2 linked regions of the Homo sapiens genome follow. The protein of the gene in region 1 purifies or fractionates together with the protein of each later gene. This does not show direct contact. Each region holds a gene or a part of one and is shown on either strand. Other genes may lie near its edges.

Region 1 (3,933 bases):
ACTTTAAATTCTGGAAGCCCAGAAAAAACGTGCAGTCAGGGTAAGCCTTATGTTTGGTGCCAGACACAGTAGAGCATTTACAGATGAAAACACAGAACAAGCTACTTCTTATTCCTTTCAAAGCGGTGTGTTTTCTTATCTTTAAAACAAATAACGTTAATTGGGCTTTTAGGATCATGGGTAGTAAAACAATGCATATTTATTCTAGGAGATTTGGAAAATAGAGTGAAATATGAAACTCACCCATAGCAGTGAGGCATTCCTTCCTCCAGCTATTCTGTTCCTCTTACACACACGTGTTTTGTTTTGTTTATGGAATTGTGATCTGTGCGTGCATTGTTTTATGACCTGTTTCCCTGCATTCTTAAGTCAGATGTAGTAGATGTAGTAGACAGCTTCCATGAACTTTTCTTTCCAACCTTTGCTTTCAGTGGCTTTATAGCATTGTGGCTGTGGAAATAACTGATTTATTACTATCCTGTTCTTTGAAATGTTGATTTTCAATTTTTCCATACAAATACTATCACAGTAAACATCCTTGTACATATAGCCTTGTATGTATGTAATCCTTGGGATTAATTCCCAGCAGTCAAAGGCCATGGATATTTAAAAACTTTGGATAGTGTCAAACTGTCCTCTATCACTTATGCCAAGTTAGACTCTTTTATTTTTTTGAATCCTAATGAGAATGGACATTTTTTCTCATGTTTATCATTTATTTGTATTTCTTCCTGAATTGCCTCTTTATAAGAAAATTGTAAACACTAGTGATTTTGACTTTACGTCTTGCAGATATGTTTTCTCATGTGGTTGTTTTGCTCTTCGTTATTGTTTGGGGGTATTTCTGGATAGCAGCACCTTTTCTGTTCTAGTGTCTTCATACAGTTTGGAGCAAGAGTCGAATGGCGAGATTGAGCACGTGACCAAGCGGGCCATCAGCACCCCCGAGAGTGAGTAACTGATCGGAACACGTGGGCTTCTCCTCAGTCTCTCCTGCATTCGTGATGTGTTTGCTAGAGTCGCAGTAAAACTCCTTCCGGTGCAGGATAGTTCTGATGGTCAGAACCATGAGTGCATTGCTGAGGTGGAGTATTTCACAGTGACCACGGTCGCTTGATCCATGAGCACTGACCGAGTATGTTGTTCCAGTGTCGTTACATTCAGTCAGTCAAACACCACAGTGGCCCGCGGAGCAGACAATGCCGTTGAGGCACAGGTAGGTTGGGTGACTGACCCAGTGGTGCCTTCTGGAGGCGGCCCTCCGTGTCTCTGGGCTGTCCGGGTGCACTGGGCGCTGCTGGGTGGGCCTGCTCCCAGGGCGGGCAGACGTCAGCACCAGCAGGTACCATGCACGCTCTGCAACTGCCAAGACCAGAGACCCGGGGACCCCTGCTCGGAGCCTGTGTCTCATTCCCCTCCATGTTTTTTCCTACTGTTTGTGCTTTTCCTTTGATTTCAAAACAGAGGTGAGTTAGGAGAGTTGAGTATTCTTTTCCTATTATCTTGTGTGATAGCTTCATATTGTGTCAAACCTCATAAAAACCATTATTTTGAGAAAACTCTTACAGGAAGAAGAAATGCTTCCTGTCCTAAATCTGTGGAGTAGTGGCTAGGCCCTGCCGCCGTGTCCCTGTGTGCCCCTCGCTCTGCGCCCGGCTGTGCACAGTGCCCTCAGCAAGCTGCATCCAGCCCCGCTCGTCCCTGGCCATTCCACTCCTCACTGTTTCCACAGACCACAGTGCCTGGAACCTGGGAGGTGTCAGAGATCTCCTCCCGGAGACTTCTGGGAGGGCAGAGCTGGGCGCTGAGCCCAGGCCTTCTGGTCCCAACTCTTGTGCCCCTTCTCCAGCCTGTCTCCTAGTCCTGACTGCAGGGGAAGATGAGAGCGTGCTAAGGTGCTCTTCCTGGTAACAGAGCAGCAAGGTGTCCTGCCGTTCGTTTAGTCACTGCTTCAGTCAGCTCATGTGTGTGGAGCACCTGCTGTATTCTAGCTACTTGCTTGTTTGGTTCTGTCACACTGATGCTGTGATCTCTTAGAATAGTTAACAGGTTAGAGGTAATTTTCATCCAGGTCCCCCTTTGAAGGGAGTTTATCCCACCCCCACCCTCAGACGACAACCGAATCATGACGGCATTTGTCATTAAAGGCAGTGGGTAATTTGGGATCCTGCGTCGTGGACAGGTGCGATGTTCTGTGTGTTAGAGCTTGCTGTGTGTTCGATGTTCCTGGCTCAGGAGTGCCAAGAGCTTCTATTTTGGCAGTGAGGTGCCATATGCTGAAGAAACGGGGAGAACGCATCTCATTTTCGTTGTGCTCATCCTGAGTCCCTGATGTCAGTGTTGGGTTGTTTCCTAGCAGCTCGTGTTTCTCCACAGGGCAGCCTGGCGTGGAGGGTTCATGCCGCCCTCATCTGCCTGTGTGGAGCCACGCTTTGTGCTGGAAATCAGGCGCCCGGTGTCATTGAGTTGGTAGAGTACTTGTTCTTGCTCCAGGCTCTTGGACATAATATTCCTGCTGATGCAGTCTCTGTCCGTCTCTCTTTATACTGAACCAGGAAGAAATGCCTGGAGGTCTCCCCTTCCTGGGAGAACTGTTAGATAGTTTAAAAGCACTCAGTTCTGTTTTCTCTGTGGTTTATACGTCCAGATTCTTTTTGGCAACTTTTAGTTTAGGTGGGGGAGACTGTCAGGAAGTGTCTCAGCTCTTCAAAGCTGGCAGGAAAGATGCCACCCAGTTCAGCACCAATTCACAGTGGCTTTGCTAAATGGAAATGAAAATTAGTCAATTTTCAGAGCGAGGATTTTAACTGAAAATCTGTGGGGGTTTTAGCAAGTCCCTGTTACTGTTACCATTCGGGTGGCACAGACGCTGCTGCCTTCGATTCTACGCACAGTGCATGGGGGACGTCAGAGCCCCCGCACCCGGGCTTCTGTAAAGATGGGAGACTAATTTCCTGGAGTGCATATGGGCTTCCAAACAGGAAGAGCAGTGTGTGTGTCAGGAAGGGAATTTCATGTGACAGCACAAGGAGAGACTTCACCGAAACAGAATAAGCAGATCTAGCAGTGATGAGGAATTCTCTACCATCGTCTATTAGTGACACTCAAGTAGCCATCGGGTACACAGCTGCAGTGCGCTGATGAGCTTTGAACTGTAAATGGGAAGACACAGTCCATACTCAAGACACCAAGTGGAGAACGGGGAGCGCTCTGAAGCTGCCTCCTCGCATGTGCTTGCAGAAGGGCAGCAGGTTCAGTGGTACCAGCAAGCAGCTGCCCAGCCCGTGCTGTTCCCGGGAGTGTGCTGGTGGCAGCTTATGCACTGGGTACAGCACCACCCAGGAGGGGCGAGGCTGCACCACCCAGGAGGGGCGAGGCTGCACCACCCAGGAGGGGCGAGGCTGCACCACCCAGGAGGGGTGAGGCTGCACCACCCGGGCCTCCAAGACAGGGTGGCATGTGTAGGCAGATGGGGCGGTGGGGGGGGGGGTGCAGAGAAGCATAATGTGCAGACAGGGCCTGCTGAGGAAGAGGACGCAGGAGGGTGGACGTGTTTGTGCACGCGTGCACCTGAGCCTAACAGGTGAGTCTGTAAAGGCAGCTTGGGACCAGCTGAGACTGAGGGTGGACTTCAGGCTCTCCTAGGAACACAGCGATTGAGGTGTCTTGAAGCAGGGCAGTAAATTTACCAGCTTCTTGATGAAACATAACTCCAGTGATGCAGGGATGATACTGCTAATAAATGACAGTGGCTGCTAACATCTCTTGAGCACTGCCCTTGCAGCCAGCACGATGCTAAGCACTCAACGTGGATAACCTCATGTAGTCCTGGCAGCCCCCCAATGAGGTAGCTATGTTTTTATACCCACTTAAGAGATGAAGAAACCTGAGGGTCTCAGAGCAGCTCACACAGCTGGTGAGACACTGAGCCAG
Region 2 (3,600 bases), on another chromosome or scaffold:
TTTGGGATGGTTTTTCATTTTCTTAAAATAAGTGTTCAGATATTCTCCTTGAATTGGGTAGAATATTAATTGTCAGATATTGTTTTTTATTTGGATGATAAACACTAACCCACAGGATTTAAACTACAACTTCTAGACTAGGCATGGTGGGTCATGCCCTTAATCCCAGCATTTTGGGAGGCTGAGGCAAAAGGATCGCTTGAGCCCAGGAGTTCGAGACCAGCCTGGGCAACATAGAGGGACCACCATGTGTACAAAAAAAATTTTTTTTTAAAGATTAGCTGGGTGTGGTGGTGTGCATCTGTAGTCCCGGCTACTTGGGACACTGAGGTGGGCGGATCGCTTGAGTCTGAAAGGTCAAGGCTGCAGTGAGCTGAGACCACACCACTGTACTCCAGCTTAGGTGACAGAACAAGACCCTGTCTCAAAAAAATAATAAATGAGTGAACAAACAAACTGCAGCCTCTAGATCAGTAGTTCTCAGCTGACAGTAATTCTGCCCCTTTTCCCATAGGACATTCAGTAACGTCTGAAGACAGTTTCGGTTGTTATAGCTGGTAGAAGTGGGGATGCTACTGGTGTCTAGTGGGTGAAGGTCAGAAATGCTATTAAAGCATCTTATAATGCCCAGCATAGCTCTCCACAACAAAGAATATCCAGCCCAAAATGTCAGTAGTGCCACTGTTGATAAACCCTACGTAGATACAAACTTGAATAAGACTCTTGGCTTCCTCAGTGACTTAACGTTCATCCTGTGTAATCCAAAGGTTTGGGCATTTTTCCAGGCTTCAATCCTGTCTAAAACTTAAACTCTTGCTGCAAACATTTAGAGAGAACTAACAGTTGAAAGCAGAATAAAATACTTTATATAAATATCTACATATTTTCACTTATATACCGATTCATACATAATATAATGAATGTTATGGAAAATAACTTTTGGGGTAACAGTTTTACTTTGATAATCATTGTGCTTATAGACTGTCAGAAGTATCGAAAAGTGATTTATGCAAATAAAATTATTTCTTAATGAGTAGATTTTCAAATAAGCTGTTTTGTCCACTGTTATTGAATTGTTTACTTTTTGTAATTATGTTGAGGCTTTTGGTGAATTATGATGCTCTCATTAGTAAGTTTTACCCCACATTTTTAAGGTTCACCTGTATTCACTTAGGAAATAGGAATCACTAAGATATTTGAATTAAGAAAACAATATACTATTTTTAATGTGTAATTCTTTTTGTTGACTTTTTTCGTCTTTGCTATTTTGTTGAAAATAAGAGGTATATCTTTTTTCATTTGCCTGTACCTATTCTTCCATTGTAATAGTCTAGAGTACAAACAAGCTACTCCTATAACGTAGCAGCATTTGGCCTGAACATACTCAGACACAATTTTCTCTCCACCATCAAACTAAATGACTGCCTAGCAGTCAGCCTTGATGGTTACTTATTATGGATTTTTTTTCTCTTTACTCTTCATAATTAAACTGCATAAATGCAAATATGTAAAGTTAATCTAAGATTTTAATTACAGTTCAAAGTTGTTATATTAGTGATTACAAACTGAAAGTTTTCTGATGTCTTATGTACCAGTGCCATTAGTTTTCTCTAGTCAAGGTGGTCTGTTTGATTTCTGTTATTACCATGAGAAATAGGTAATATCCTTTTCTGTCAAAGGCTCTTGTTTTTAGAAAACTGAACATGTAAGTTTTTGACTACCTTTGAAACCCATTACTTGTTAAGGAACTCCTAAAAACCATGTTTGTAGAGAAAGTTGGTAATACTACTTTGGGACAGGGTTCCTAACACAGTTTAACCATGCAAGTGTTTTTGAAAATTCTTTGTTTTAGAACAGGAGCTTCAATTGTGTTATTAACAATTGATAATGTTTCCACTATAATCAGATTGCAGATTAAGTGAAAGCTTTCCTAAATTTTACTTAAAGAAACAAGTTTTATTTATTTATATTGAACATTCTAGTTGGGGAAATGAGTGTGTGTAAGTGGGTGTATATTACACTTTTATAAGGATTTATCTAAGGGAATATAAATTCATGTTTCATATCTCCCTGTGTAAAATTAAAACTCTTAGGAATACCAGTGAAAATAACATTTTTATTTATACCTTATTAAATCATTGCACTACTAACTGTACATTATTTAGATGTTTATTACTCTTGGCTTTATTATTTAACTGCTCCCAATTCTCACTTAAGATTGATTTAGCTAAACATACACAGTGAGTATGAAATATAACTTTTTTTTAAAGGGTGAAGTTGAACAAATTGCTATGATGAAACCAAAAGGCCAGACTGAACACGATGAGGGTATGCTTGAATATTTAGAAGATATAATTGGTTGTGGACGGCTAAATGAACCTATTAAAGTCTTGTGTCGGAGAGTTGAAATATTAAATGAACACAGAGGAGAGAAGGTGAATCATCTGTAGACTTTCATTGTAAATCAGAATGTTTCATTTATGATCTAACAAATTTTAGTAAGTCAGATATTCATGTTATAATACTTAATGAAGAAGTGTTATATTGAAATTTATATCTTAACATTTAAGATGAACATTCTCCTTATTAACTGTTTTTATCTAATGTTTGCATATTTTAAGTTCATATTGTACATATGAAGTGTGTATTCAGTCTTTAAACTTTTAATTTCTGTAGTTAAACAGGGTAAAGATGGTGGAAAAGGAAAAGGATGCCTTAGAAGGAGAGAAAAACATAGCTATCGAATTTCTTACCTTGGAAAATGAAATATTTAGAAAAAAGAATCATGTTTGTCAATATTATATGTAAGTGCCTTGATTGATATTACCAATTTTTATATTAGTTTTTAACCATTAAGTCAAAGCCCTTCTCTTTTCCTAGAGAAACATGAAGACTGAAGTGAAAAAAAATCTCTAAATATTGTTTTGTGTGACTGAATGTGTTAGCTCATGCCTGTAATTCCAGCACTTTGGGAGGCTAAGGCAGGAGGATCACTTGAGGCTGGGAGTTCAAGACCAGCCTGGGCAACATAGCAAGACCCCATCTCTACAAAAAAAGGAATTATGTGGTGAACTTATCCAATGTGAGGACTATCTGGCTGTGACACCTGTCATCCCGTTGATCACCAGGGTTGAATTTATTAAATTAGGCATATTAATTCATTGAAGTTGACTTTTTAGTATCCTGCTTTAAGTTGGGAGGTAGGTTCACAGGTATTTATTACTGTACTCAGTCCTTTTACGTGTGCACTTTTTAAAATTCGTGTAATAGCAGATCTGATTTTTTTCAGCTTATGATGAACTGTTTTTTGAGATGGGCTGTTTCACCCAGGGTGGAGTGCAGTGTGTGATCACGGCTCACTGCAATCTCAACCTTCCGGACTCAGTTGATCCTCCCACCTCCACTTCATGAGTAGCTGGGACTACAGGGCACACACCAACACACCTGGCTAATTATTATTATTATTATTGTTGCTGGGATTTTTTTGTTTTTATTTTTTCTTTTTTCTTTTTTTGGTAGAGATGGGGTTTCGCCATGTTGCCCAAGCTGGTCTCAAACTTCTGAGTTCAGGCAGTCTGCCTGCCTCAGCCTCCTAAAGTG

What was found.
Region 2: the proteins of NCAPD3 (region 1) and SMC4 purify together in Homo sapiens (co-immunoprecipitation; 3 studies listed by BioGRID and IntAct, with this or other methods). This does not show direct contact.

What each region holds. Positions count from the first base shown.
Region 1 is NC_000011.10:134,154,035-134,157,967, reverse strand, and holds part of NCAPD3 (condensin-2 complex subunit D3), read left to right. Parts: coding exon 1-40; intron 41-872; coding exon 873-950; intron 951-3,933.
Region 2 is NC_000003.12:160,409,650-160,413,249, forward strand, and holds part of SMC4 (structural maintenance of chromosomes protein 4), read left to right. Parts: intron 1-2,270; coding exon 2,271-2,435; intron 2,436-2,676; coding exon 2,677-2,804; intron 2,805-3,600. UniProt on the Homo sapiens protein: Central component of the condensin complex, a complex required for conversion of interphase chromatin into mitotic-like condense chromosomes.